Regions from separate parts of the Homo sapiens genome. Here regions 1 and 2 are each linked to region 3. The links come from fine-mapping of genetic effects on gene expression. A gene starts in region 3. Each other region holds a variant in brackets. All regions are shown on one strand. Distances are from middle to middle. Region 1 overlaps NMT2 (N-myristoyltransferase 2). Region 2 overlaps FAM107B (family with sequence similarity 107 member B). Region 3 holds the start of RPP38-DT (RPP38 divergent transcript).

What was found. PIP is the estimated chance that this variant, and not a neighbour inherited with it, causes the effect.
Region 1: its variant is fine-mapped to the expression of RPP38-DT in monocytes after Pam3CSK4 (Quach 2016, PIP 0.95).
Region 2: its variant is fine-mapped to the expression of RPP38-DT in spleen (GTEx, PIP 0.95).

The regions. Positions count from the first base shown.
Region 1 is chr10:15,153,916-15,164,595 of GRCh38, forward strand. The region is part of intron 1 of NMT2 (N-myristoyltransferase 2); the gene reads right to left. It also overlaps the pseudogene PPIAP30. Among named protein-coding and RNA genes, the nearest start is that of NMT2, 9.4 kb to the right of the region's middle. The variant ATATTTATT/A (reference allele first, on the strand shown) is at 5,481.
Region 2 is chr10:14,584,599-14,595,278 of GRCh38, forward strand. The region is part of intron 2 of FAM107B (family with sequence similarity 107 member B); the gene reads right to left. Among named protein-coding and RNA genes, the nearest start is that of MIR1265, 150 kb to the left of the region's middle. RefSeq lists an enhancer at 3,680-3,879. The variant G/A (reference allele first, on the strand shown) is at 4,382.
Region 3 is chr10:15,091,798-15,102,312 of GRCh38, forward strand. It overlaps RPP38-DT (RPP38 divergent transcript), which reads right to left and starts at 5,522. Exons shown (of 2, transcript NR_160789.1): 1 at 5,290-5,522; 2 at 3,588-5,068. RPP38 (ribonuclease P/MRP subunit p38) reads left to right here and starts at 5,558. Exons shown (of 3, transcript NM_183005.5): 1 at 5,558-5,969; 2 at 10,421-10,515. It also overlaps the pseudogene GAPDHP45. RefSeq lists enhancers at 5,103-5,674, 5,976-6,065, 6,126-6,265 and a silencer at 5,476-5,835.

The sequences.
Region 1 (10,680 bases), 62 kb after region 3:
TGCTGGGATTACAGGCGTGAGCCGCCGCACCTGGCTTACACACAGACGTTTTATTAGTTAGTATACAGGTTGAGCTGCGTGGGCTCCAGTCCCAAAATAACAGCCGCTCACAACACAAGCACATTTATCTTTCGTGAAAAGGTCTCTGCATCCCTCAGTGGGGAATTTGTGCCCTAAAATGACAGCAGGGCTGGCTCCCTCTGTCCTGTCTCCCCTGCCCCCAGGATGCTGGCTTGGTGCAGGTGCTGTGGGATGACTTCCTACCACTGGTACACATATCCCAGCCAGCAGGAGGGATGAGTGGGGCCCTCCAGGTGCCCAGAACAAACTGTCACTGTGGAAGAAGGGGCCCACTGGCAGCCTTGGCCATGAGGGTCCAGCAATAGGGGACTAAATAAATAATGGTACCCTGTGTAGAACCACATGACGGGATGGCCAGCCAATTGACCTGACTCAGGTGCAGGCTGTGTGGTGACCTGGAAAGACATTCAGTTCCTTTCAAATGACAACAGATGAATACAAACAGTATACAGTAGGTGCCCCTTATCCTCAAGAAGGCGTTCCAAGTCTCCCAGGAGATGCCTAAAACCATGGCTAGTACCCACTCCTAAACTTCATAGCCTATGCACAAAGGTATTTTTCCTTTTTCACAATTTTATGGGTAGATTATTATTATTTTTTGTTAGTTTTTATTTCATAGTCATAAACTTAACTCTGCAATCCAGCTAGGCATGGAAGGGGGCAAGGAAAACATGGAACCCAAAGGGAAATGCAGTGAGAGCACAAAGATTCTAGGATACTGCGAGCAAATGGGGTGGAGGGTGTTCTTCTGAGCTACAAAAGGAATGGTCTGGTGGTTAAGATAAAACACAAGTCAAACTTATTAGAGTTGTCCACAGTCAGCAGTGGTGATCTTCTTCCTGCTCTTGCCATTCTTGGACCCATAGCGCTTCATGGCCTCCACAATCTTGATGCCTTCTTTCACCCTGCCAGAGACCACATGCTTGCCATCCAACCACTCGGTCTTGGCAGTGCAGATGAAAATCTGGGAATCGTTTGTGTTGGGTCCAGCATTTGCCATGGACAAGATGCCAGGACCTGTATGCTTCATGGACAAGATGCCAGGACCTGTATGCTTCAGAATGAAGTTCTCATCATCAAATTTCTCCCTGTAGACAGACTTGCCACCAGTGCCATTATGGCATGTAAAGTCACCACCCTGACACAAAAGCCCTAGAATAATTCTGTGAAAGCAGGAACCCTTATAACCAAATCCTTTCTCTCCAGTGCTCAGAGCACGAAAGTTTTCTGTCTTTGGAAACTTGTCTGCAAACAGTTCGAAGGAGACGTGCCCCAAGGCCTCGCTGTTGATGGCGATGTTGAAGAACATGGTGGGGTTGACCATGGCTGGTAGTACAGGGCTCCTGGTGGCGGTGGCGTCTGCAAAGCCTTTTTTGTTGTGTTTTTTTAAGAGATTGGGTCTCACTCTGTCATCCAGGCTGAAGTGCAGTGATGCAATCATAGCTCACTGCAGCCTTGAACTTCCGGGCTCAAGTGATCCTCCCGCCTCAGCCTCCTGAGTAGCTAGGAGTACAGGTGTATGCCACTATGCCGGGCTAGTTTTTTTTTTTTTTTTTTTTTTTTTTTTGTAGAGGCAGGATCTTGCTATATTACCCAGACTGATCTCGAACTCCTGGGCTCAAGTGATCCTCCCACCTTGGCCTCCCAAAGTGGTGGGATTATAGACATGAGCCACTGCACCTGGCCCCAAGGATTCCTTCTTACAACCACAGTATGTGATCTTCTTTTCTTATTGAGAACTTTCACCTTTTCACTTAAGAAAGCACTTTATGGCTTCTCTATGGTGTATCCAAATTGCCAGTGCCACTCCTCTTGTGCTTTAGGGCCATGGAAGTAAAGTAAGGGTCACTTGACCACAAGCACTGTGATTCCAAGACAGTGAATTTGATCACAGAGATGGCTACTAAGTGACCTGCAGGCGGGGACGCTGGCAAAGAGAAAAGTCGCATCCAGGGCGGGACAGGGTGGGATGGCCCCAGATTTCATCATGCTACTTGGAAGGGCATGAAATTTAGAACTTAGGAATTGTTTCTGGAATTTTCCATTGAATATTTTTGAACCAACGTTGACCAAGGGTAACTGAAACTGCAGAAAGCAAAATCACAGATAAGGCGGTGATGTGGTTTGGGTGTGTCCCCATCCAAATCTCATATTGAACTGTAGTTCCCATAATCCCCATGTGTTATGGGAGGGACCTGGAGGGAAGTAACTGAATCATGGGGGCGGTTACCCTCATGCTGTACTCATGACAGGGAATGAGTTCTCATGAAATCTGACGATTTTATAAAGGGCTTTCACCCCCCTCACTCTCATTCTTCTCTCTCCTGCCACCCTGTGAAGAAGGATGTGTTTGCTTCCCCTTCTGCCATGAGTGTAAGTTTCCTAAGGCTTCTCCAACTATGCAGAACTGTGAGTCAATTAAACCTCTTCCTTTAAAAATTACCCGGTCTAACGTACATCCTTATAGCAGCATGAGAACGGACTAATACGGGGCGGAGGCTACCATATTTGCATTTTTGTAAATATTTATAAATAGGAAAATGTATATATGAATATACCAAGGCATGGCGTTTTTGCTTAGTGATTCATTCGAATGTTCTACATTAAAAATGTGGTTTCAGGCCAGGCGCGGTGGCTCACGCCTGTAATCTAAGCACTTTGGGAGGTCGAGGCGGGAGGATCACAAGGTCAGGAGTTTGAGACCAGCCTGACCAACATGGTGAAACCCCATTCTACTAAAAATACAAAAATTAGCCATACGTGGTGGCACATGCCTGTAATCCCAGCTACTCAGGAGGCTGAGGCAGGAGAATTGCGTGAACCCGGGAGGCGGAGGTTGCAGTGAGCCGAGATTGCGCCACTGCACTCCAGCCTGAGCGACAGAGCTAGACTCTGTCTCAACAAAAAAAAAAAAGGTTTCGCAAAAAGAACTTTTTAAAAACTTCATTTGGAAACCAAAATAAGCACTCTGCTTTCACTGGTTCTTTCTTCAGTTTTCTTAAAATGTTAATAAATACCCCTAAAGTAGTGAAGAACAACTATCCCCCTGCCCTCCCAAAAAAAGAAACACTAAAGGAAAAAACTATGGGAATTTCTTATGTTAACTGAATCCCCAACCTTCTCTGGGAAGGTACTATATGAGCTGGAACACTGAGAGAACACAGCTACGGAAATAAAGAAGTCCCTATTTCCCCGGGGCACTGTGAGTTTAAGCCAGGAACAGAAGCGCACTAAACAAAACAGAAACTGTAAAGGTGACATCCAAATTCAGTCCTCGACTCCAACCAGGTTTTCTCCTAAGGCTGGGAAAGCATGACAGGCCACTAACTTACTCAAAGCATCCACAAAGAGCCACCATCCAGGGCAGACTGGGCATAGGCTGCAGCAATGGGGTACAAGAGGGCTGAAGTGGGTACCTCCCGGCAGCGCTTTCACCCAGGAGATGAAAAACCAGATTCCGTGGGCCATGTCACTTCTCACAGGAACCTGGCTTCGTGGAACTCTGAATGATGGTGATGCTGGGGGCAGGGGGCAGAGGCTCCAGAGAAAGGGGTGCTGATATGTACAAGGCTACAGGTAAGGCAGTCAGAAAAGAGATGATTAAGCCATGAAAGAAGCAAAAAAGAAAAAAACTTGTTACTAAGTACACTGATGCTATAAAATAAAAGGAGTCCTTTAAGGAACTAGAGACAAAAGAGTTCCTAATTATTGATTTGCAATATTCTTTAAGCAAAGAAATGTATGATTTTAAAAAAATTAATTCATTGACCCATTACACTGGTGAATTTTGGCTCCAAAGGTGTTCAGGTTGGTAATCAATCTATGACTTATAAAGAAAAAGACCTTGAGACATTATCAAATTACTCTTATTGAGAGTCCAAGAGACTGTAGTTTAGTGAAAAGCAACAGATTTACAGTCAGATAGACTTAAAAGCTAAGTTTGAATTTGAGTTATGGCCTGGATAACTTATTAAAACTGATAAGCCACAATCTCTTCATTTGTTATTGTAATGAGTCAACCAGGGAAAATATATAAGGCTGGGCACGGTGGCTCACGCTTGTAGACCCAGCACTTTGGGAGGCCAAAGGAGGGCGGATCACTTGAGGTCAGGAGTTCAAGACCATCCTGGCCAACATGGCAAAAATCCATTTCTACTAAAAATACAAAAATTAGCCGGGCATGGTGGCAGGCGCCTGTAATCCCAGCTACTTGGGAGGCTGAGGCAGGAGAATCTCCTGAACCCAGGAGGTGGAGGTTGCAGTGAGCCAAGATCACGCCACTGCACTCCAGCCTGGGTAACAGAGAGATACTCTGTCTCAAAAAAAAAAAAAAGAAAAATACATAAGCATATGCCAAGAGGTCAAAAAATTAGTTACCATTTAAAAATGTTGGGCCCTATATAGCAGACCAAAACTAAAAACTCTACAGCCAAAGTCCTCTCAATGAGAAGTAGAAAAAGAAAAGCCTTCACATATTCTTAATGCATATAAAATAAAGACAATTTGAAATAAATTTGTCAATGGGAATTAAGAGCTATTGGAATCCATTCTGCAAATCTTTAGTAAGTTACAAACACATGCAAGGTACCAGGTATTGCAAGGATTGGAGACTGAAAGTGCTGTCTCCATGCACACAATCTACCTGTGAGTAGACAGGCAGACACGCTGTGTTCTGCAAACATGTTTTGAGGTGTGTCTTAGTTCAGCCTGCTATTACAGAATACGATAGACTGATTACTTAAAGAAAAGACATTTATTTCTTACAGTTCTGGAGGCTGGAAGTCCACCAAGATCAGGGTGCCAGCAGGGTCAGGTTTTTGGTGAGGGCCTTATTCTTGGCAGAGCAACAAAGCACTGGACTCTATCTCTTTATAAGCATACACTGATCCGATTCATGGGGACTCCACCCTTGTAAGCTATTTACCCCCCAAAGGTGCCACCTCCAGACACCATCACGTTGGGGATTTAGGCTTCAACATATGAATTGGCAGGGAGATACAATTCAGTCCCAGCAAGGTGCCAGCATTGTTCACTATGTCCTTCCCTGAAAACTCCCTTTGCCCACAGGTCTCACCAAAGGTGTGGCCCTCAGTGGCCATGTTGTACCACACAATTCTCTTCTACCCCTCCCTTTCCCTTCTCCATCACAGTGGACTGGATCATGCCTGGATAATCCCTTTCTTGGCCAGAAACCAGTGAGATCCTTTCTGGAGAATCTGAACTAAGGAACAGATGCTTGGGGCAGTCTAGTTGACAGAGACTGAGACAGAAAGGGAGAGAGGTTAGAAAGACAGATGGACCTTGGGTACTTGACTTTCTATAATGTTTAATTCTAATAAAGTCCAGCCATACTTTATTTTCAGATAACCTATTGTATATTTAAATAAAACCTCCTTAAA[ATATTTATT/A]TATTTATTTATTTATTTATTTATTGAGACAGAGTCTCACTGTCGCCCAGGCTCACTGGAGTACAGTGGCACAATCTCGGCTCACTGCAGTATGTGCTTATAAAGTGATCTCCATCTCTCGGGTTCAAGCAATTCTGCCTCAGCCTCCCGATTAGCTGGGATTACAGGTGCCCGCCATCGTGCCAGACTGATTTTTGTATTTTCAGTAGAGATGGGGTTTCACCATGTAGCCCAGGCTGCTCTCGAACTACTGACCTCAGGTGATCCACCCGCCTCGGCCTCCCAAAGTGCTGGGATTACAGGCGTGAGCCACTGCGCCCAGCAAAATAAAACCTTTTACTCTAGCTGGTTGGTAGATGCTACACACACATTAAGCAACAGACGCAAAGACCCACATCTCCCATTTGTGATTGTGGACAAGGAACTCACCTCTAGGAGCCACAGCTTGGGGCAGGAGAATGAGGGTCTTCCCGAGCAGAGGGCTGGGGAGATGAGGTGAGAGCAACTGGGAAAGATGTCACGGGAAAGATACACTCACTAAGAGCTACAGGGCTTCCGGCAGGGGTCAGCGCCTTTGGTCATAGTGGCTGCGGAAGGCTTCATGAAAGAAAGGACATTTGGGCTGACCTTGAACTTAGAGAAGAGGAGAAGAAAGATCAGGAGACACTCTCAGAAGCAGAGGAAGCCATGACCCACAGAAAGGCGTGAGCAGTAACAAATTCCTCTTGGTGAACAATGATGTCTGACACTGAATTCAAAGTTGTTTTCTGCGCTACTCTGTAATCAGACCTCCCTCCCTCCCCATTAGCCACAAACGCTTCAGCAAATGCTGTGCACAATAGCTGGATTTTAGTGATTCCTGGGAGGAGGGTGGTGAGAGACACAGAACTGAAGATAACCGTGTTCCACCCAAGGTCAAATGTTGAAGAAAAAGAGCACCCTAAGGACACACAGGCACAAGGAGCCCGGTGATGGGGCAAGTTGGCTGCAGTGTGGGTGTGCCTGAGGACCATGAAAACTTAAGACCCCAAGAAACCCCCATGAACATGTATCAGCTCAGGCCATTTTGTTTAGATAGTAAAGGAAAGGTGCCAGGTGCAGTGGCTCACACCTGTAATCCCAGCACTTTGGGAGGCTGAGGTGGGGAGATTCCTTGAGGTCAGGAGTTCGAGACCAGCCGGCCAACGTGGTGAAACCCCGTCTCTACTAAAAATACAAAAATTAGCTAGGCATGGTAGTGTGCGTCTATAATCCTGCCTACTTGGGAGGCTGAGGCAGGAGAATCGCTTGAACCTGGGAGGTGGACGTTGCAGTGAGCAAAGATGACGACACTGCACTCCAGCCTGGGCAACAGAGTAAGACTCCATTGCAAAAAATAAAAAATAAAGGACAGGCGATCCCAGCATGTGAAAGGACATGGAAACCCTTTGGTAATAGAACAACAGGGAAAAAATGCCAGAAGCTTCTAGACTGAAAACAAGTTAAAACAGACAAAAAGAATAAGATTACCTATAAAAGACAGAGAAGCAGAGAAAACAGCATCTGGCCAGGCACAGTGGCTCACACCTGTAGTCCCAGCACTTTGGGGAACCGAGTCAGGTGGATCACCTGAGGTCAAGGTCAGGAGTTCGAGACCAGCCTGGCCTGGGTGACAGAGCGAGACTCTGCCTCAAAAATCAAAAAAAAAAAAAAAAAAAAAAAAAAAAACACAAAGAAAACAACATCTGTACCAGTAAATACTGGAAGATATTAAAACGTTTATGGAGTTTCAAGGAAAACGATTGTTATCATAGAGTCACATGCACACCCAGGCTATGTATTATGTGGGAGGGGAAAAGAATGGCATTTTCAGACATGCAAGAACTCAAAATACATCATCCACGCACTCTAAGAAAAAAAATCATGTGAGAATGCTGTTAAAGAAGAAAAAGACAGGATGTGTTTTATTTTTTACTTTTATTTTTTTGAGACAGAGTCTTGCTCTGTCGCCCAGGCTGGAGTGCAATGGTGCAATCTCGACTCACTGCAACCTCCACCTCCTGGGTTCAAGTGATTCTCCTGCCTGCCTCAGCCTCCCGAGTAGCTGAGATTACATACGCCCGCCACCACACCTGGCTAATGTTTTTTTGTATTTTTAGTAGAGATGGGGTTTCACCATGTTGTCCAGGCTGGTCTCGAACTCCTGACCTCAGGTGATCCGCCCACCCCGGCCTCCCAAAGTGCTGGGATTACAGGTGCGAGCCACCACGCCTGGCCGGGAGGATGTGTTTTATAAAGAACGATGGAAACCCATAAAAACAATAAAGCTGTCAGGAAAGTCTAAAATGTTTTTGTTAACAGGAATGTGAAACATGTAATAGTTAAGAAAAAAGTCTCTAGTGACACAAGGGCAAAAATAAAAGAATTACAATTCCAGGTTATTTCAATTAAACCTAGGAAATGAAAAGAAGTCAAAATATCCTACATGATTTTTCTTGTGAGATGGTAGAATATTTTAAATAGTGGTTAATTTTTTGATATGGATAAAGAAATATAGATGAAAACATACTTGTTCAAAATGTACAGATCGCCGGGCACGGTGGCTCACGCCTGTAGTCCCAACACTTTGGGAGACGGAGGTGGGTGAACTGCTTGAGTTCAGGAGTTCGAGACCAGCCTAGACAACATAGTGAGACCCTGTCTCTACAAAAATACAAAAATTAGCCAGGTGTGGTGGCATGTGCCTGTAGTCCTAGCTACTTGAGAGGCTGAGGTGGGAGGATCACTTGAGTCCAGGAGGTCAAGGCTGTAGTGAGCTGAGATTGTGCCACTGCACTCCAGCCCAGATGACAGAGTGAGACCTTGTCTCAAAAAAAAAAAAAAAAAAAAAGTGTACAGATAATCCACAGAAGAAAAAAAGAATGAAAACTAGACATATTCTACCAAAGACAGGAAATAAAATACAGAAATTTTTGAGTACCAAGAAAGCTTATAAACAAAATTCAAAGACTGAATATGATCTGAGCTGTCCAGTATGATAGCCACTAGTCACATGGAGCTATTTAAATTTAAATTAATTCAAATAAAATAAAAACATTCAGCTCAGTCACACTTGTCACATGCAAGTGCTCCATGTGTTGATGACTGCCCAACTGGATTACTATCACCCCAGAAAGTTCCAGCACACAACAATAAGAGTCAGCGAAACATACATGGTAACAAATGCACCCAGGTACAGTAAGATCCCAGCGATGTTAAACACACACACATATTAAAAAGTGAGTTCATTAAACTATCAGTGGTGACAGCTCTGGGAAATAAGGTGACCAGGGGCTTTCACTCTACCTTATATACCTTATTGTTTGATATATATATATATTTTATTTATATATATATTTGATTTATATATCTCTATGTATTTGATATTATATATCTGTATTTGATATTTATATATCTCTATATATTTGATATTTATATATCTATATATTTGATATCTTTTGATATTTATATATGTGATATATATAAATATATACATATAAGAGAGAGATATATATATATGTATATTTTTAGACAGAGTCTCATTCTGTTGCCCAGGCTGGAGTACAGTAGTGCGATCACAGCTCTCTGGGCTGAAGCAATTCTCCCATCTCAGCCTCCCAAGTAGCTGGAACTATACGCATGCACCACCATGTCTAGCTCATTTTTTATTTCATCGAGATAGGGTCTTGCTATGTTCCCCAGGTTGATCTTGAATTCTTGGCCTCAAGCGATCCTCCACCTTGGCTTCCCAAAGCACTGGGATGACAGGCATGAGCCACCACACCTGGCCCTATTGTTTGATTTTTGAATAAGCGTATTTTTAAAACGTCATTAACATGTTTTCAAAGAAAACAACAATCAATTTCTTGAACTTGGAGTAGAACTTGGTTCTGTTAAAATAAAGTGATTTTAACTAGTATAGATGTATAACGTACATTTGCACTAACAAACAAAGATGGCAAAGTATGTGTCCTATATTTAGACAACCCTGGAAAAAATTTGTTCTGGGCCAAAGGGTGACATCACCCATTCAGATGCAAGTCTTAGCAGACACTTGATCATTTCAAACAGTAGTTCTTGATTTGAGGAGGTCCCTCAGGCAAAGACTGTCGTTAATCTATTTTTCCATTTAGATTTATACAGTTGATAACAGATCAAATTTCAGAAAGGGCAGCTTTGAGTTATCCCTAAATTTTCCATAAGAAAAACTTATTGCAAGTCATAATGTTTCTGCATTTTCCCACTGATACCACACAGCTGACAAAGGGGAAGTTCCCAACTCAATTTCAACAACAGACATATGAAGTCAGATACAACAACATAGTGCCCAAAGAAGAACTTCCTTTTTTTACCCCCTAAATTGGGGATGGTAGAAGACAGATTATGTTCTTTGTTAAAAGAATTCCAAAGTTTTCATCTTTGTCCAATACCAGATCTTCAATCTTTCTAAGAAAAAGAACTCTTAAAAACGTCTTAGGCCGGGGACGGTGGCTCACGCCTGTAATCCCAGCACTTTGGGAGGCCGAGGCGGGCGGATCACAAGGTCAGGAGATGGAGACCATCCTGGCTAACATGGTGAAACCCCGTCTCTACTAAAAATACAAAAAAATTAGCCAGGCGTGGTGGCGGGCGCCTACTGTAGTCCCAGCTACTCCGGAAGCTGAGGCAAGAGAATGGCGTGAACCTGGGAGGCAGAGCTTGCAGTGAGCCGAGATCGCGCCACTGCACTTCAGCCTGGGGGACAGAGCGAGAATTGGTCTCAAAAAAAAAAAAAAAAAAAAAAAAGGTCTTAACCCTATTTCATGTCTACCCCAGGGACTAATTTAGTCATGTATCTGCCAACAAAAACATACTCACCTATGTTTATTTTGGTTCCTATATAAATCTTCTTAGTAGCTGCTTCCAGTGAATATTGAGGGAAAAGCTCTCTTAACGGAAAGCTATGAGAAACATCTATTTTTCTAGGAAGTATATGCTCTCTGTAAGTCAATGTTGGTTAAGCAAGGGGACAGATTTGGTTTTGTTACCAAAGTTCAACACGAATTTTATTTGACTCTGTCTCCAACAATGGACCATAACATTAGCTCAGTAAGAGATCATGACCAATACCAAATGTATTTCATAACTGGAGAAGCCGGACATCAAAAGGACAGCGAGAAGACAGTGGGTTCTAA
Region 2 (10,680 bases), 510 kb before region 3:
ACGTGCAGTGCTCTCCCTACAATTATAAACAGCTCCAAGATACGGACCCTGTGAGGCAGGAGAATAGGGGCTGGAGGCAGGGAACCTAAGGCCGATTCACACTGACTTCCTAGAACTAAATCAAAAGGATAACCCCAACTTTCCACACCTATGTAACAAAAGGACCGGAGGCCACTCCCCTTGCAACCCCCACCTTTTCTGCATGGCAGGTGAAACTGAAAGGACCTCTGCTTGGTCCCCTCTTCCAACCAATCAGGCTGGTCACAGGCCAAGTCTTCATTTGCACAGGAGTATAACTTTGTAACTTCACTTCAGCCTGTAATTGGTTGCTTCCTGCAACCAATCAGATGTTGGCACAGGGTGTAACTTTGTAACTTCGCTTCAGCCTCTGATTGCTCCCCTCTTGCTGATTCAAATAACCAATCAGACCAATAGTGAGCCATTAGTTCATTTACACAAGGTGTACACCAAGTAACCAAAGGGACACCTCTAGAGGGTATTTAAACCCAAGAAAATTCTGTAACCGGGCTCTTGAGCCCCTATGCCCAGCCCGCTCCCACCCTGTAGAGTGTACTTTTGTTTTCAATAAATTTCTGCTTTTGTTGCTTCATTCTTTCCTTGCTTTGTTTGTGCGTTTTGTCCAATTCTTTGTTCAAAATGCCAAGAACCTGGACACCCTCCACTAGTAACACCTGGACCCCACCTCAGCCCCCTCCACTCTCGCAAGCCCCATCTTCCCGGCAGTCAACTAAGAATCAGACTTTCCCAGCCCCTGTCAACCAGGCTGATGAGTAGAAGACCAAGAATCCTCTCCCTCCTCTCTTCCTCTTCCCTCTCTCACCAGTCCCTGCCACCAAGCCTTTAGGTGAAGCCACGGACCCTGGGGGGCGCCAGGAAAAGCAAGTACAGTCTCTCGAGCACTCCAGCCAATTACAGAGGTGCAATTACAGATGCTGCATGTGCAGCTGCCCTGAGGTTTACAGAATTAGCTTATCAATGACAAAACAGACGGCCATCTAAAACACACACTGGGAGAAAAGAGCTCTGAAAAGTGTGGCGCAGAACGTTCTTTGGAATTCAAATAACAAGTACACAAAGAGAGGCAGCCAAGCTCCGCCCATGAGACAGGTAAACCATGGACTCACCACAGAACCTTGTGTGGTCAAATCTTTGGTCAGGATCTTCACTCATACACATAACAAATACTTCTCTGCAACCAAGTACTCGTGAGTAGGGTGACCATATTAATTGTCGACCACAGCAGTCATTGCTGAGTAAGGAGGAAGCCTCTGTTACTAATTACACCTGGACCAGGCTCGTCCCAAACCAAACAGGAAATGCACTCTCCCTGCATACAAGGCACCCTCAGGGGGTTCTCCTGCCACTAACTGCTGACCCTGGATCCCTCTTGCTTGGGCGTGCAGGGGTGCTCCCAGCCAGCAATCAGCTCCTGCATAAACAGGAACCCAGCAAGCAACAAAATACCTGGGCAAGGGCACTGAGTCCGCATCACTGTCAACTCCTGGTTACTGGTGACCTCCTGACCCGAATTCCTCATGTGCTAGTTCAATTCCTGACCTTCAGCCTCACTCTCACTTCTACAACTCACATCCTCCTTATCCTCCTCCATCCCAGGCCACTGAAAACCCACCTTCTCTTCAGAACACTGCTTTGCTTTTAAGAATCCTACCTGTAGCAAAGAACGTCTCTGTGGTAGATTTAAAAATAAAAGAAAAAAATATATGAGATGAGAATCCTGCCTGCCCATAGACTTGAAGCCTCTGCTCACCTTGGCCATGGCTATGGACTGAATATTTTTTCCTCCTCCACCATAAATTCATATTATTTAAGCCCTAATCCCAACGTGATGATATTTGGAAGTGGGGCTTAGGGGAAGTAATTAAGTCATAGAAGTGGAGCCCTCATGAATGGGATTAGTGCCCTTAGAAAAAGAGACACCAGGCAGATGATCTCCCTCTCCACCATGTGGGGATACAGCAAAAAGGTGGCCTTCTACAAAACACGAAGGGAGCCCTCACCAGACACCAAATCTGCCAGCATCTTTGATCTTGGAGTTCCCAACCTCCAGAACTGTGAGAAATAAATGCTGTTTAAGCCACCCCGTCTGTGGTATTTGTTACAGCAGCCCAAATGGATGAAGACAGCCATACCTTTGAGCCCAGGGTCGCTCCTCCACTCTCCAATTAGATCCCAGAGCTCCAGTATGGACCCTCTACCCCCACCAGGTTCCTAACCTGTCTCTGTATTCTACCACTGCTTATCAAACTAGGCTACATTTCAGGTGGAGAAGGCCCAAGAGGATGATATAGGTGAAACATTCACCCCAATCCTGGGACAAACTCTCTCTCATTGAGTCCTATGAGAATGGAATAGTCTCGCCCATCAGGTGAGAGTGTAAACAATCACGTATGACATCACATCACAACACCACCTTGGGGGAGCAGACACTAACCTCTGTTCACACCTGTGTACAGGCACTGTGCCAGGTGCTTTTCCTGCCTGATAATAGTCACACTGCAGAGATGAGAAAACTTGAACTCACCAAGATAAAAGCACTTACGACATGCCACCTAGGTCTATCTAGCAAAAAGTTCATCGTCCTTCTAATGCGCCAGTGTCGGAACTAATAAATGACAACATACATCTGAAAAAAGCCTGAGGATAATGACAGTGTAAGACACAATGCAGGTACTCATGTATTTATTCTCATGTATTTATGCACAGAAATATATTCTCATATATTTATTTAGAAAGAACTCCCATATTTATCCAATCGCGGGAAGTTGCTTAGCCCTAGAAGTCAAAATGTGGACAACAGACACAGTCGACAAAGATAGTTCTCATACATTTAAATAAATGCCTAGGCTTATTTTCATGGTATGAACAACTATTTTTCATGTTTAATGTTTTTAAGACTTTCCATTAGTATGAATAAGAATTTGTCTTACACAAACATCCAAAAAAAGACAGTTTCTTTAGGATTACATATCTTAAACATTATTTTCTTTTCTGCTATAAAATCGTCACCACAACCCTAGCAACTAGGAAGTTTTGTTTCCTGTCCTTGTTTTTATTCTTTTGTGGTGGCAAGTGCCAGCATGTGGGGTAGGTAGGGTGAGGCAAGGTGGGTGACAGTAAAGGACACTGTGCTCAATTCGAAGCTACGGGAGGAGAGAGCTCTAGTCCTAGATTTGCACCAAGGAGCTTTGAGCTCTCAGTAATTCAGCAACCCTGGGCTGTCATTTCATCTATAAAATCAGAGGGTTAGGTGTTCTCCACAGCCTCCTCCTGCACTCAATCCTATGATAACTGCTGAAAACTCCAGCATGGGACAATTACCAGTGTGACACCCTTGAGAGAAATGGTGGGATGTATATTTAAAAAAGACTATCTAATGACTCACCCATGAGTAAAAAATAATTTACTTCCATTTTAAAATCCATATTAATCGACGTGACGTTAGTAGAGAGAGTGCCTAATGTCTGACAGCGCTTCTGAAGAGGATATAAATAGGCGGTTTTTGAAATTAGTCAGCCATGTGCTCACGTCCACCAAGAAGCACATGCAGGCAACATGCTCCAGGCTGTGCGTGCAAGCTGTTCTGTTTCCAGCACAAATGCAGAAAAGGGGAAAAAAGCAGTCCTGGTAGAGTCAGTCATCACATATTTCAGCTGTAAGTAGGAAACAGGAAGCTCACAAAGAATTGTAATTTAGAAGCATTTAAAACAAAACAAACAAACCTACTCCAGGCACAAATACCAGATAGCTGCAAAGCCAACTGTGGTATTTGATGACAAATTGTTTAAAGTCACCAGTGGGTCAGAGTACAAACCACGCCCACGTGAAAGTCTCCCTGGACGCTACCAGGGTCTACCCATTCTCCCCTCTCTGTAAGCCAGCTTCACACAGGTAAGTGGGTCCCATAAACCCCCGGAGGCACCCACATCTGGCTCTTTGTGGGCAGCGCAAGTAGAGAAAAAGACAGTCAACCAACCGTCCTGAGAAACAGGAGGCTGACACTCAGAAAATCAACATCAAACATCCTCTCCCATGCCACAGGGTGACTTCTCACCTCCACTCCTCCCCACCCATCACCCCACACACGCTGTCTCCCAAAAACACATCTGATCTTTATGAAATCTCAGCTTCAGAGCTCCCCAGGATGTTACTGTTACTGAAGGGGAGTGAAAAGGAGGAAGAAGAGAGAGAAGGAGGGCTCCAAACCCATCCCAAGTTGATTCCTTCATGATGTTTCCAAGAATTTAAAGAATAAGTGGTGAGGCTGGGCGCAGTGACTCACGCCTGTAATCCCAGCACTTTGGGAGGCCAAAGCAGGCAGATCACTTGAGGTCAGGAGTTC[G/A]AGACCAGCCTGGTCAACGTGGTGAAACCCCATCCTTACTAAAAATACAAAAATTAGCCGGGTGTGGTGGTGCATGCCGGTGGTCTCAGCTACTTGGGAGGCTGAGGCAGGAGAATCACTTGAGCCCAGGAGGTTGCAGTGAGCCGAGATAACATCACTGCACTACAGCCTAGGTGACACACCGAGACTGTCTCAAAAAAAAAAAAAGAAAAGAAAAAAAAGAGTAAGTGGTGACTTTTTAAAAGAATGGTCAAAGGAATTATTTTTAAAGCTGTAGGTTGGCATAGGACATTTATCAAAAGAAAGAAACTATCAGTTCAAACTTACCTAGACATCTTATAAGAGTCCTGAACCATCTATAATCTGAAAGCTTTTTCAAATACTAGTAAGCCAGGCACAATTACCAATTATTCAAATAACATTTATTATAGCTAGTGATTTCCACTGACTATATCTGCAATAATTAGAGCTGGTAGGTTTTTAAAAATATAGATTTTAAGAGTATATGGAAAGTCCTTGAAAGGCAATGTTTCTGGGCTGTTAGGAATAAGGCATTCCTTTAACACGAAATAATGAATTTTAAACAGTAATAATAATAACAAGGAAGAAATGAATGACTGAATGAATCAGAAGGCAGTACACCATAGGGTGAATAAGAGTACATTCTTGGGGGATGAGGGGCAAGGGGAGGGAAAGCATTAGGACAAATACCAAATGTATGCGGGGCTTAAAACCTAGATGACAGATTGATGGGTGCGCCAAACCACCGTGGCACATGTATACCTATGTAAGAATCCTGCATGTACTGCACATGTAGCCCAGAACATAAAGCAAAATTTAAAAATTTTAAAAATTAAAAAAAAGAAAAGCACATTCTTTGCAGTGAATATATCTCAGTCCTGGGTGATCCTGGGCAAGATATTCAATGTCTCTATGCCTCAACATCCTCCTCAGAAAATAAAACCAATTACAGTCCTAAATCACAGGGTTGTCATGAGGATCCAAAAATGATGCATGTAAGAAGCATTTAACATGTTCAAAAGAAACACTTAACGTACTAATGGTCCTTATTCCAGGATGAGTTTTGGTTCCAACTCTACAAATCATTAGCTGTGTGGTCTTGGGCAAGCAATTTAACACATCTAAGCGTTGGTTTATTCACCAAAAATGAAGAATCTTGATTAGATGACCTCTTCATTTCTATGGCTTCTCCAAGCTCAAGACCTCTCTGACAACAGAAGCAACATTTATGATTTCAAACTCTTCCACGTTTCTAGTTTTCACATCTTTCTTTTAGGACTTATTGGTCACAGCCATGATTTATATGAAATCAAGTGTTTGGTCAACAGCACGACTCCTCAGAATGAGACTGTGACTATGGGAATCCTAGAACCTACTTTATAATGATCCTTTTAACAAATAGGTTTCAAACAACACATTGTGGCAAAAGACAGGCTTGCCCATGATAGTTAGAATCAATATATTTCCATTCTGGTAGCCTTCAAGTATGGAAGTTGTCCCAAAATCAAACTGCGGATGTAGTATGTCACCGTGCAGCCTGGTGCTGATGGAGCATATGTAAATTAAATTCATTCGCTACGATCATGCTTCTTCCAAAGGAACTCTCAATTTCTTCCTAACAGAAACAATTCAAGTATCTACCCTCTCCAAACACTCTTAACAATGAAGTTGAGAGGTGCCATTAAGAGATCCATTTCTCAGCCAGGCGTAGTGGCTCATGCCTGTAATCCCAGCACTTTGGGAGGGTGAGGCAGGCGGATCACCCAAGGTCAGAAATTCGAGACCAGCCTGACCAACATGGAGAAACCCTGTCTCTACTAAAAAAAAAAAAACACAAAATTAGATGGGTGTGGTAGCACGTGCCTGTAATCCCAGCTACTTGAGAGGCTGAGGCAGGAGAATCACATGAATCCAGGAGGCGGAGGTTGCAGTGAGCCGAGATCGTTCCACTGCACTCCAGCCTGGGCAACAAGAGCAAAACTCCATCTCAAAAAAAAAAAAAAAAAAAAAAGATCCATTTCTTCCGTATGTTTGCAGAAGAAAACACAAAACTATTTCAGATGTATCATTCTCCTCTAGTTATCTTAAACTCATCAATGACTGATCTTTTATAAGAAAAGACTGAGCATGAATGTCTCCTTACAAGTCAGAAAATTTAAAATGACAATTGAAAAAGATACTCTCTATCATGGTCTGCACCATCACGGGGAATTCTACCTCCTAAACCTAGGTCATTCTCTCCTAACTTAGGTGAACAGGCACCCAAGTTACATAAAAAAGAGAGTTAGCACATATGCACAGAATTTAATATTGCTGCAACTCAAGACTTAAATAACAAAATTAACCTGACAGGGTAACATCCACAGAAGACCGTGCAAACGGTAATTAACTTTAATAACAGGAGGCGCTCACAGTAACTGCAAGAGCCAAGCCAATCTTTGCTTTTTTCTGTGAATTCTGTAGATGCCCCTAAGCTGTATCAATGTTGTCAGTTTTCCCCGATACCCTGGTCAGTTTAAATCTCATCTCATGCTCACTGCCATCTCATTAAGAGAGAAGAATCAACAATCTCTAATGAAATAATTAATTCAAACAACAGTCATCGATGAATGCTAACGGCATTGGGAGAAAGATCGATGAGGAAATGAAAGGGTCAAGCTGCCACCCACCACAGGACCCCAACGCTCAGTTTTAGAATCACTACACGTGAGACAGTCAGACCTTTTCCTAAGCTGAGGCAACGTTAAGCCAGATGATACCAACAAATTAATCCTGCCAAAAACACTGCACATGAATCTGATCAAGCTTTCATGATAACTTCCAGTTTACAGAAATACAGGGACTAGTGGGATGAGTTTAAAAGAAACCCAGCACCCAAATCCAGAATGTGGAACATTCTACGGAACAAGTGACCTGATTCCTTCAACAAGTCAATAGCATGGGGGGAAGGGGTGGGGGTAAAGGAACTGTTCTATATGTATACAGCTTTAAAAGGCATAACCATCAAATGCATTGGACAGACTTTGTTCAAATCCTGGTCCTTAAGAAAAGCCATTTCTAAGTGAATAAGGGATGAAATCAATGCTGGGGAGGTGGGAAGTTCAGCAGATCCCTGGGCTTCCCCGATCCCGTGCCATCTGATTTCCCAAACTGCATGCCCAGCCATCCCCGAGTTGAAAGGTCAGGGCCCAGCACAGAAACTAGGCTATGAATGGCTGGGCCACACCCAGCTCAGGACCAAGAAACCCTCAGGTAAGATGATTCAGCTTTGGCAAAGGAAGAGGCAGTTCCTGGGGCTACTAGTGCGGAAATGTACAGGTTCCTTTGCTGGAAATTTTTGCCAGCAGGTTCGTAGCAACTCTGAGGCTTCATGGGAAAGCCATTCACATAAAAAAGCATAAAATCACAGGTCTGTCCAGAGTCAATTTATCACGTGAATCAAAACAAGGCACCTCTGAAGTGAAAGGGGAGAAAAAGAGACAACACCTAACAGGTGGCTTAGATTTTGCATCCTTAACAGTGTCTAATCCTGCATTTCTACCCAGGGGTTTTGTAGTTTGGCTTTGTTTTTCGTGTATCTTTTTAAAAATATATAATTGAGGCATAACTTGCATAAAGTGCATGCATTACATGTACAGCCCAATTTTTACTCCCTGCAATTTCAATTTTACTTGGATCAGTTTTGCAAGATAATATCTCCTCTCTTCAAGGCATGTGCCAGTCAGAAGCGATTCTGGAATGGAAAAAGAAACAGACTGGGGCCTGCTTCTAACTCCTGCGCCCTGCACACTGGTAGCCTGGGCAGCTGACATGCACCGTCCAGCCAGGACACAGATTAAAGCTGAACAGAGTCCCTTGGCAACGGAAGATAACAGCTTCTTCACTGCACCATTCCAGTACCTACCTCTGCCCCCAAATCCTACTTTCCCCCAGGCTTCCAGCTCAAGTCGTGAGGATTTCTAACTGGCCACTGCACTGCCTGGAATTGCCCAACAAATATGGAACAATGGTTGACCTCTTTCACTCATTTCAAAGGCCCACCATTCAGCGGGTTAATATTTTAAAAAATGGCAGACTTCCCTGGGGTCCTACCCAGATAAAGAGATCAACAAAGATTTGAACGAAGTCTTTTTAAATTAAAATTTAATATTATTAATTCTTAATTTTTATTCTTAAAACTAGGTATTCTAACATAAAAAGCTTTTTTGTTTGCTACTTTGAACTAGTAAACTAAAATTATAATTAAAAATCCTTAAAAGAGAAAAACATACTAAACGTGAAAAATAAGTTTAACGACACCATAATTCCATTTGAGAAAGTTTAGGAAGATGTGACACCAGTAAAAACTGTTCTACCAGCAACCAGGGGTAGAACCCAGTGTAACACTAATTCTTATTCAAGAAAGTTTACTGCTGGCCGGGCGCAGTGGCACTTTGGGAGGCTGAGGTGGGCGGATCACTTGAGGCCAGGAATTCGAGACCAGCCTGGCCAATATGGTGAAACCCCATGTCTAATAAAAATAAAAATTAACAAATAAACAAAAATTAGCCAGGCACAGTGGCGGGCACCTGTAATCCCAGCTACTCAGGAGGCTGAGGCAGGAGAATCGCTTGAACCTGGGAAGTGGGGGTTGCAGTGAGCTGAGATCACACCACTGTACTCCAGCCAGGGGACGAGACTGAGAATCTGTCTCAAAAAAAAAAAAAAGAAAATTATTGCTTATCATGGCTAAAATTATGTAACCAGCTCTTACCAAGCTACTTGAGTGTGTAAGGTGTTTAAAATCTTTTCCAAAATTTCAGAATTCTTGGGATATACAAAGAACTCCTCTGCAATACAAAACTATGAAATCTTCCAATATAGACTATATGTGGCAGGAAAAAATACCGTTTAGATATAGAACTGTTCGAGAGTAAAATGTATTATACATAATACAATTAGATAAACATGTTGAAAAATGCATGATGCCTAATTAAATTCCATTCATTAATAGGGTAACAGCCTTGGGGCACTCTGTACAAAAATGGCATTTCTGGTAAACACAACATTTAAAACAACTCAAACACACAGGCTCTGCCTGATGACATAATTATGTGTTTTTAATTTGGTGCCATTCTGACACTATGCCTAAGAATACTTCACAAATGGATCACTTTAAGACACTATCATCTCCATACGGTAATGCCAAAATAAAAATTCAGTACAAATATTCCCCTTAAAACTACAATTTTCAGCCAGGCACGGTGGCTCACACCCGTACTTTGGGAGGCCAACGCAAAAGGATTGCTTGAGGCCAGGAGTTCAAGACCAACCGGGCAACAGAACAAGACTTCATCTCTACAAAATATAAAATTTAAAAATTAGAGTGGTGAAGCGCTCTGCAGTCCTAGCTACTCAGGAAGCTGAGGTGGGAAGATCCCTTGAGCCCAGGAGTTCAAGGCTGCAGTGAGCTATGGTGGCACTGCTGCACTCCAGCCTCCATGACAGAGCAAGACCCTGCCAAAAAAAAAAAAAAAACAAAAAAAAACAAAACTGGCAAATGCATTCTCCAACTGGAATCCCAATCTCTTTGTGAGGCTACGAAGACACAAGCCTCAAACACATGGTGAAGGGCGTGTGAAGAAGCAGTAAAGACACAGCTCCATGAGAAGAAGGCCCAAGTCTGATCCCAGCTCTTAAAACCCCGAGCAAGCTTTTAACCTCCCTTGTTGAAAAACACTGATCATGGCACCTCTCATGGAACTGCATTGGTTGGTGCCTCTACAACTGATTTCTAGAAATCACAGAAAATAATGGCCATAACTGTGCCTGGCATATAACAAATGCTCGGGAAATGCTGGCCACTGTTATTTTTATTCTCATCTTAAGGCACATCTCAGTGGACCTTTTTCTCATCAGCACAGGGTATCTCTTATGATAGATGACAAACTCTAAGAAGGTTCCTTAAAAGCAGATGTCTTAGGCAACAATGGATGGACTTCAGAAACACTATGCTACATGAACAAAACCAGACCCAAGAGAGAGGCCACACTGTGATTCTACCTGTACAAAGGCAAAACGCTACAGACAAGAGAAAAGATCACTGATTAACTAAGACTGGGGGTGGGAGGGGGAACTGACTGCAAAGTCTAAAAACTGGACTGGGGGGAGGCTGCCCACCCTTATAAAGTTACTAAAAATTACACAACTGTGTACATATAATGGGTGAATTGTATGGAATATAAATTATACCGCAATAAAGCTATGCTAACAACAAAACAGATACATCTCCCAAGCAT
Region 3 (10,515 bases):
TCCCGGATTCAAGTGGTTCTCCTGCCTCAGCCTCCCTAGTAGCTGGGATTACAGGCGTATGCCACCATGCCCAGCTAATTTTTGTATTTTTAGTAGAGATGGGGTTTCGCCATGTTGGCCAGGCTGGTTTCAAACTCCTGACCTCAAGTGATCCACCCGCCTTGGCCTCCCAAAGTGCTGGGACTACAGGCGCGAGCCACCATACCTGGCTCCTTTTCCCACTTTCTTAACAGCCAACTCCTCCTTCAAGACTTAGCCGACATGGCAACACCTCCAGGAAGACTTTGAGACAAGAAATAGCTTTAGCCTGGTCTTCTCGTCTATGAGCCTCTGGCCATCTCTCTCCGTCTTTCTTCTGTTCTCATTCTTACCTGCCTTCAAAGGGCTTCCGCTCCACTTGGCCTCCCGGCTGTTCTAACAGGCCTGTCGCACTGCTGCTCTCCCGTCTCTACCTCAGAATTATCTTCCCAGGGTCGGCCTGGCTCAGTGCTTCCACTCCTCTAGGTCTTTGCTCATCTGTCATCTCAGGAGGCCTTTTATCACCCATCCTAGCACCCCCTTCCACTCTTACCTGCTTTTTCGTGTTGCTTTTGTTTTTTTCTGAGATACAGTCTCACTCTATCACCCAGGCTGGGGTGCAGTGGCATGATCTGGACTCACTGCAACTTCTGCCTCCCAGGTTCAAGTGATTCTCCTACCTCAGCCTCCCGAGTAGCTGGAATTACAGGTGTGCGCCACCATGCCCAACTAATTTTTGTATTTTTAGTAGAGACGAGGTTTCACCATGTTGGCGAGGCTGGTCTTGAACTCCTGACCTCAAGTGATCTGCCCACCTTGGCCTCCCAAAGTGCTGGGATTACAGGCATGAGCCACCGCGCCTGGCCTTCCCTGCTTTTTTTCTGTAGCACTTTGAATCATCTGACAACTTAAATCGTTTACTTTGTTTACCGTTTCTCCTCCTTTAGAACTCTGGCTCACCACTTTATCCCCAACACTTAAAATTCAATGAATATTGTACCTGTAGGAAAAGGCGGGGGGGGGGGGAAGAAAGGGAGGAGGGGGATAAAAAGGAAGGATTAAATGTCTTTCAAATTTCCCCGTTTTCATAAAACAGCACTGCTGAGACCCCTGACAACCTTGGACATCTCCACATAGCCACAGAGCCAAGGCCTGACTGCGGTCTACCCTGAGTCCTCGCCGAATGCCTGTGATTTCCCTGGGAGCAAGGCAAGGCTTCCCTTTTTTTTTTTTTTTTTTTTTTGATTGAGTGCAGGAAACTTTATTGATGGTACACGACAAGGTGAGGCTCCCATGGTGTCTCCCTCTTCAGGGCGTCTGCGTGGAAACTGTGAGGAGGGGAGATTCTCAGTGGGGGCGGGGGCTGAGTGGGGCAGGGACTCCGCAGCAGTGAGAGCCTCTCTCGTCCTCTCGTGCTCTCACTGGGGCTGGTGGTCCGGGGGTCTTACTCCTTGGAGGCCATGTGGGCTCCGCCACCCTGTTGCTGTAGCCAAACTCACTGTCATATCAGGAAATGTGCTTGACAAAGTGGTCGTCGAGGGCAATGCCAGCTCCAGCATCGAAGGTGAAAGAGTGGGTGTCACTGTTGAAGTTGGAGGAGATGACCTGGTGCTCGGTGTAGCCCGGGATGCCCTTGAAGAGCCCTCTGAAGCCTGCTTCACCACCTTCCTGATGTCATCCTATTTGGCAGGTTTTTCCAGATGGCAGTTCAGGCCCACAACTGACACGTTGGCAGTGGGGACACAAAAGGCCATGCCAGGGAGGTTCCCATTCAGCTCAGGGATGACCTTGCCCACAGGGCTTCCCTATCTTGTGGGAGAGTCTCACAAGGCTGTTTCTCATCCATGTCCCTAGTTTAGTTGAGACTAGGGCTTTCCATCTTCCCCTTCTTTCTCCGCACCCCCTACAACCTGCTCCACTTTAGGATGGAGCCGCAGGCTTCTGTGTAAATCTGTAGAACTGCTTGCTGAAGTTTAGTTTGTTCCTCGACAGAGTGACCCACCACTCATAAGACCTGTCATCTGACCTCTGAGATTGGGAATGCTGTCCCATGGGATTAGAGATGCAGGGAGCTGACATCATGTTGGTCTTGATTTTGCTGTTTTGTGAGACCTGCGAATTGCTCAACTGCTTGAAACTCCTCACCTTCACTTGTCTCTATGGACACAGATATTCTTTGGAGTACTATACCGTTCCAATTAGTAAAGCTTTCAGTATTCATTTTGCATCTCATCATTAAAGTTTATTCTTAGTAACTGATTTAAAATAATGAATTGTTTACATAACAACTACTGTTACATAACACACACACACACACACACACACACACACACACAAACACACACACACAGCTAAGGTCAGAATACCATGGAGGAAAAGAAGAATCTGGTGGTCAATTCCCTTACATTCTTCTATTGACAAATTTTCTTGTTGGGACCTTCACTTATTTCATCAAAGGATTGTGGCTAATGATCTAATTTATTACTCAGAATCTTTTTATTTATTTGTTTTGGAGACAGGGTCTCACTCTGTTGCCCAGGCTAGAGTGCAGTGGTGTGATCATAGCTCACTGTAGCCTCCACCTTCTATGCTCAAGCAATCCTCCTGCCTCAGCCTCAGGAGTGGCTGGGACTACAGGCACACACCACCATGCCCAGCTAATTTTTTTTTTTTTTTTTTCTGTAGAGACGGGGTTTCGTCATGTTGCCTAGGCTGGTCTTGAACTCCCGGGCTCAAGCAATCCTCCTGCCTCAGCCTCCCAAAGTGCTGGGATTACAGGTGTGAGCCACCACAGCCGGCCATCACTCAGAATCTTAAGTCATTGTCAAATAATGGAAAGCATACAAATCAAACAGTAGTCCAATTCTAGAATTAATATAAAAAGAAAGCTCTAATATACAAAGACCAAACAGATTTTACAGGATAAAACAACTGTCATTAAAAAGTAAAACTGGCAGGTGTGGTGGTGCACATCTGTAATCCCAGCACTCTGGGAGGCCAAGGTAGGAGCATTACTTGAGCCCAGGAGTTTGAGACCAGCCTGAGCAACATGGCAAGACCCCGTCTCTACAAAAAGTACAAAAATTAGCCAGGCATGGTGGCATGCTCCTGTAGTCCCAGCTACTCAGGAGGCTGAGGTGGGAGGATCACTTGAGCTTGGGAGGAGGTTGCAGTGAGCTGAGATGGTGCCACTGCACTTTAGCCTGGGCAACAGAGCAAGACCCTGTCTCCAAAAAAAAAAAACCGTTTCTTCAGAATAGGATATCAAATATGTAAAGTAATAATTTGAGAAACATGAAAAAGCGTTATGTGTAAAGAAAATCAGAAGACTTAATCTGTATTAGTTTAATGTAAAAGCATGCACATATGTGAAACAAAGTAGAAGGGAACACTAAAGAAAAAAATGGGTGTGATTGGGTCATGGGAGAATGTTTTTTACTTTTTGGTTGTAATGTTTGTGTGATACAAGAGGGACAGAAATTACTTTCGAAATGTACTTGTTAATTTTAGCAAAATCCTCGTGGAAATTATACTGCTAGTTTTAAAATAAAACACAAGCACTAAAATAATAAAGGTTATGTTTCATTTTTATTAACTTAGTTTTGCCACGGTTGAGACTGGATTTGCCATAGTTCAATTTATCAAGCACTTAACTATGTGTTCCGCACATAATAATCATCTTAGCATAGAGGAACATGTCTTCTAATCCGCACAAGAGATACTATTTTTATCACGTCATAGAGGAGGTTAATAAACTTGCCTAGGTCATAAGATCTTCAGTTGATGAAGTTAGGATTTCAACCCAGAGCCAAGTAATGTAATGGCTGATGTTTTCCACAGAGAAAATGTAAGCCGAGATGATGCTCAAACTATAAATCTGGAACCTTAGGGGGACAAAAACGTATGGATGTCTCCTTCCCATTACTTTAGCATTTTAATTAGATTCCTGTGTCTCTATTTGTCTTTGGAAATGCAAGCTGCTTGCAGTTCATCATAGCTAACTCACACAATTCATTTTATGAAACACAAACCTGTTCTCACAAACTCACTGTCATCTCTTTTTAATCTTTCTAATTGTGATAAAAATCATACTGCACTTTACCCTGTGTAACCTCCAATGATCTTTGACCAAAAGCCAAATCTTTTTTTTGTTGTGTTTACTTATGGACAGTTAGGTTCTACATAGGTACTTAAACATGAAAATTGAAATCATAGAGGCTGGGCACAGTAGCTCATGCCTGTAATCCCAGCACTTTGGAAGGCCGAGGTGGGCGGATCACCTGAGGTCAGGAGTTCGAGACCAGCCTGACTAACATGGTGAAACACCGTCTGTACTAAAAATACAAAAATTAGCTGGGCTGGTGGCCCGTGCCTGTAACCCCAGCTACTCCGGAGGCTGAGGCAGGAGAATCACCTGAACCTGTGAGGCGCTGGCTGGAGTGAGCCAGGTTCGCGCCATTGCACTCCAGCCTGGGCAACAAGGGCAAAACTCTGTCTCAACAACAATAATAATAATAAATAAAAGAAAGAAATCACAGAAACTATACCAGAAAATAGGATACAAAACCAACAGTGAGGAGATTGAGAAAAGGAGGCAGATACGTAAAGAGGAAAAGGAAGGGGGCCCAAGTAAGGCCGGAAAAAGCGGGGAGAAGGAGGAGGCTCATTAGGTCAGAAGCAACCTGCCGTCTTCTAAGTTCTGGCCAAGGGTAGATCAACAGATCCAGATTCCTGAGCTTTAAAATGTTATTCGGCCGCTTCATCACTTGTCCCCGACTTTGCAGCGACTCCGATGGTAGCCTGAGTCTCCATTGCTTGGAGCAGCCACAGTGGACACTGGACGGGATATTCTGTGCAGCTGTTGCTGAACTCAAGGCAACTCTTACTGCCTTTCTCTTTTCGGGCTCAAGATTCCCTGCATTATTGCCCATAGGCATGTGTTTTACCCCATACTCCTTCTCCCTTTTATCTTGATTTTCGCGGTGCTGGGGAGTCTGCAGGGATTCCATGGCGACGGGCTCACTGGGACAGGGGCTGGGGTTGTGCGTCCCTGAGGCAAGGCAAATACAGAAAAGCGAATAGAGACAGAGGGCTAAGATTCCAAAGCACTGAAAGGTAGAAACTGGGTTAGAAGAGAGAGGGGAGCACAAACGCCCGGAGAGAGCGAGCCCTCGGGATACCATTGGCTATAGGCTGGCCTCCGAACAACTGGACGGTCCAAGTCCTGAGCGTCTGGTTACCCGGGCAACCGCATGGTCTCGCGATACATACCTCGCGCCTGCGCACTGCCCCTGTAGCGGGGGTGGGGGGACCCGGTCCGGAGACTCCACCCCGGGGCCTAAACTCGAGTCTAAAAGATTGGGCCTCGTTGTGTCGTTTCCGGGTCGCGCGACGCTGTGGGCCGCTTTCCCCTCTCCGGAGTGACCTAACACAGGATAACGAAACCTGCACTGCTCCGAGCGCTTCCTCCCCGGCCCGTCGCGTCTGCGAGGCGAGGCCGGGAGGCGAGGGCTCTGCGCACGCGCGGCGCAGGCGCACTGGGCGCCGGTGCTGTTGCCTTCAGGTGACCACGGATTCGCCATCGTGAGTTCCAGGTGGGCGCGCGGGGCCCACGTAGGGCAGGAGGCCAGCCCCGGGGGGATCGGGCCCGGGACTCTGCGGAATCTGGAGGCCGAAGCCCGCGCGCACGCAGGGTCTCTGCTGCTTCCCCAACGCCTGTTGCGTGGCCGCAGGACCCGCCGCCCTCCCGGTTGGGCCGCCCAGTCCCGGGCCGGGCGCGTGCACCCAGAGCTTCCGCGTTTCTAGTCCGGCTCCTCTGCTGGATTGCAGCGCCGGCTGGGCACCAGGAGTACAAAGCGAAAACCCCCGCCGGCCCTTCTGTTCTCCACGGTCTCCAAGGAGACACGGACAACAGAACAACACTTCCGTGTGCTAAATAGTAAAGCACCAAGGTACTCGATCCAGGGGCGGCGTGCAGTGGGGAGGTGAGCTTTGGGTCGGCCGTCGCCCCTCGGCTACCGGCGGGATCCAGAAACCGGGAGTCACCACCAATACCGTTCTCAACTTTACTTCCAGCTGGTCACTACTGTGTCGGGAGATTCTACCTTCTTTTCCGACTAACATGTATTTTTCTCCAGTCCTTTCTGCGGCGTCTCTAGTGCAGGCCACCGTCATTTCTAACCTGGACGACTCCAGGAGCGTCTTTGCTGCTCGGGGACTCTTCCTTTGCCCAGATCCACAAAGATCTATAACGTCTTTCTAATCACGACACCTCTGCTTTAGATGTTAAAGTTGCTTCACACTGGAACGCTTGCAAAGGTCTTCATTATCTGGTCCTTACCCACCTTTCCTAGTTTCTCACCGCTTTCTCTAGCATCTCTGCCCCAGCCACATTGAACTTATTTGAACGTGTTTTTTTTTTTTTTTTTTTTTTTGAGACATAGCAGTCGCCCAGGCTGGAGTGCAGTGGCGCGATTCCGGCTCACTGCAACCTCCGCCTGCCGGGTTCAAGCGATTCTCCTGCCTCAGCCTCCCGAGTAGCTGGGACTACAGGCGCCTGCCACCACGCCCGGCTAATTTTCGTATTTTTAGTAGAGACGGGTCACCACGTTGGTCAGGCTAGTCTCGATCTACTGACCTCAAGTGATCCGCCCGCCTGGGCTTCCCAAAGTGCTGGGATTACAGGCGTGAGCCACCTCGCCAGCCAACTTATTTCTTTTAATACTGAGATACCTTTCTTTACTCCATACTTCCTTTGGTAGGCATTGTTTAGATGTAGGTTAAGAGGTCCGGCCCGGCGCGGTGGCTCACGCCTGTAGTCCCAGCACTTTGGGAGGCCGAGGCGGGCGGATCACAAAGTCAGGAGATCGAGACCATCCTGGCCAACATGGTGAAACCCCGTCTCTACTAAAAATACAAGAATTAGCCGGGCGTGATGGCCCGTGCCTGTAGTCCCAGCTACTCGGGAGTCTGAGGCAGGAGAATCGCTTGAACCCTGGAGGCGGAGGATGCAGTGAGCCGAGATTGTGCCACTGCACTTCAGCCTGGCGACAGAATGAGACTCCGTCTCAAAAAAAAAAAAAAAAAAAAAAGTTCCTCTGTGAGGACTGCCTTTTCCCACCCCCCTCAACTAAGCTAGGCCTCTGCTGGATGTTCCCTAAGCATACTGTTCCCTGACCTTCATGTGCATCAGGCTTTATTGTATAATTACTTGCTAATATTTTTTCCTCGTGGACTCTAAGCTCATGAGGTCTGTGAGAAAAAATACTTAATCTTTATGGCCTGGCACATCGTGGATAATCGATAAATATTTGTTGAAGAAAGGAAGGGGCCTGCGGCTGAGGGTGGGAGTGGTATTCCAGGCAGAGGGACTAATGTGTATAAAGACTTGCAGGTGGGAAAATGCTGGCCTCATTAAATAGTATGTTGTTCGGTGTTGAGGACTTGTGCTTGGTGGGGCCTAAGGAGAAAGAGGGCCTAAGTGGGAGATTGAGCTGGAGTGTGGAGGGCCTTTTATGTCACATTAGAGTTTAGGCGGGGCATGGTAGCTCATGCCCTCAATCCCAGTACTTTTGGGGAGGCCGAGGCTACGGGATTGCCTGAGCCTAGGAGTTGAAGACCAGCCCAGGCAACAAAGCAAGACCTTGTCTCTATAGAATTTCTTTTTTTTTTTTTTTTAAGACGGAGTCTTACTCCATTGCCCAGGCTGGAGCACAGTGGTGCAATTACGGCTCATTGCAGCCTCCGCCTTCTGGGTTCAAGCAATTCCCCTACCTCAGCCACCCACCTAAGTAGCTGGGATTACAGGTGTGCACCAGCACTCCTGGCTAATTTTTGTATTTTTAGTAGAGACTGGGTTTCACCATATTTGCCAGGCTGGTCTCGAACTCCTGACCTCAAGTGATCTGTCCAGCTTGTCCTCCCAAAGTGCTGGGATTACAGGTGTGAGCCACCGTGCCCAGCCTATACAGAAAATTTAAAAATTAAAAAAATTTTCTGGGCTTGGTGGTATGCGCCTATAATCCCAGCTATTCAGCATGAGGCTGAGGTGGGAGGATTGCTTGAACCCAGAAGTTCAAGGCTGCAGTGAGCCATGATCGAACGACTGCACTACTGCCAGGTGACAGGGCAAGACTGTCTAGTAAAAAGAGTTTGCCCTTGATCTACAGGCAGCAGAGGCCTCTTGAGACAGCTCTAAAGGGCCCTCAGCAAAGCCTATTTTTCTCTCTTTCTCTAAAGCTATAAAATCTTATCAGTCAGTACTTTGTTTCTGGATTATATTGCGTGAGATTATGCTTATCCAGACTACTTGGCTCTCTTTATCGCCCCAGCAGATTCTGCAGGTGGGACAAGTTTATAGCCTGTTTTGTGATCCCTCTGGAGCATGATTTTAAGTATTTATTCTGTGGTGTTTGGATGTGGAGACATCATCTGACTTGCAGTTGGCAAGAGCTCTGCCCCATCCTATTTGTTTCACCCCCTGTCACTTATTTCCCTCTTCCTGACCACTTTGAACCTGATGCCAGCCCCTCACAGTCACTGCATTGCATCTGGATGAGCCACTTTTCTTCCTGATTTCCTGAGCTCTAGGGGAGCATAGAGATAATGGGGTCAGGGGACACAGTGTGGCCACCGTGAAGGAAGCAGCTTAGGCCCCAGAAGTCTCCAGGATTGCTGTACCGAGATGACCAGGGTGTGATCTCTCACCCTAAGGAGCTGAATTTGGCTTTTCTGTGGGAAAGTGTCTGGGAAGAATATCAGAGACCAATAGCGCTCAGGGGGCCCTTTCTCGGGGCTGTCCAGTGTGGAAACACCCTGTCCTACACCAGTGGTTCCTGATTCCGGCTCTGAATCAGATTCACGAGGGCAACTTTTTTTTTTTTTTTGATATGGAGTCTTGCTGTCGCCCAGGCTAGAATGCAGTGGCGCGATCTTGACTCACTACAACCTCCGTCTCCTGGATTCAAGAGATTCTCCTGCCTCAGCCTCCAAGTAGCTGGGATTACAGGCAGGCACCACCATGCCTGGCTAATTTTTTTGTATTTTTTAGTAGAGACGGGATTTCGCCATATTGGCCAGGCTGGTCTCGAACTCCTGACCTTATGATCCGCCCGCCTTGGGCTCCCAATGTGCTTTGGTTACTGGCGTGAGCCACTGCACCCGGCCTGGGGCAGCTTTTTATAAGCACAGATGCCCAGGCCTTATTATTGAAGATTCCAATTCAGTAGATCTGGGTTGAGGACCAAGCATCTGCATGTTTTAAGAAGCCACAGGTTATTTTTGAGGTGTAGCAAGGATTGAAAGAACAGAAAACTTGGATTTGGAAAACTAGTTGTGACTTTAGGCAGTGAGTCAGTTTCCTAATGCACACATTGGGGGATTCTATAGGAATGCTGTAAGAAGCAAATAATACATGGAGAGAGTGCTTTATACAGCGATACACTGCACAGACACACTTGCCTTCAACATCAGCTGCCAGCCTAGTAAGTGGTAGTATAAATGCAAAGGATATAACTTCCTTTAGTTTTGCCAGGTGGGTCCCTGTGATTCTAGCTGAGCCCCAGGAAGGAAGGGAAGAAAACTGAGGGAAGAGAAGGGAGTGTGTAGTTGCCTCTGGGAAGGATAAAAGGATATGCCCTCTGGACCAATAGTTTATAACATTTTCCCCATTAAGCATCCTTCTACTCATTTTTCCTCAATGGATTAGTATCTTTAAATTTCATTACATTTCCCTAGTCTTCATGGAATTGCCAGCCAGAGAAGTCAGCTCGGGGTCCCCCTAAAAAGGAGGACTGGCCGGGAGTGGTGGCTCGTTCCTGTAATCCCAGCACTCTGGGAAGCTGAGGTGGGTGAATCACCTGAGGTCAGGAGTTCGAGACCCGCCTGGCCAACATGGTGAACCCCATCTCTACTAAAAATACAAAAATTAGCCAGGCGTGGTGTTGGGCACCTATAATCCCAGCTACTCCGGAGGCTGTGGCAGGAGAATCGCTTGAATCTGGGAGGCAGAGGTTGCAATAAGCTGAGATCATGCCATTGCACTCCAGCCTAGGCAACAAGAGCAAAACTCCGTCTCAAAAAACAAAAAAAAGGGAGTGTATGCCTGCATATGTATCAAATGCTGTAGGAAGGATATTCAAGAAATTTAGGGCCCTGGGAGGTGGGGAGACTTACAAAAGTGGACGTGACAGTGTTATTTGAAGTTTTAATCATGAGATGACTGTTCAGTTCTTTAAAATATCACACCTGATTGGTTGTGAATGGCAGAGGCCACCAGAGTATTTGCAGATTGGGAGCTCTACGTGGGTGGACATCGGGTCTTGCTTACTGTGAGCCCCAGGACCTAGAACACCACTTGCATACTGGAGGTGCTCAGATCATTTTTTTTTTTTTTTTTTTGCAGACAGGGTCAGATGTGTTACTGGGCTGGAGTGTGGTGGCACAATCACGCTCACTGCATCCTTGACCTCCTGGGCTCAAGTGATCTTCCCACCTCAG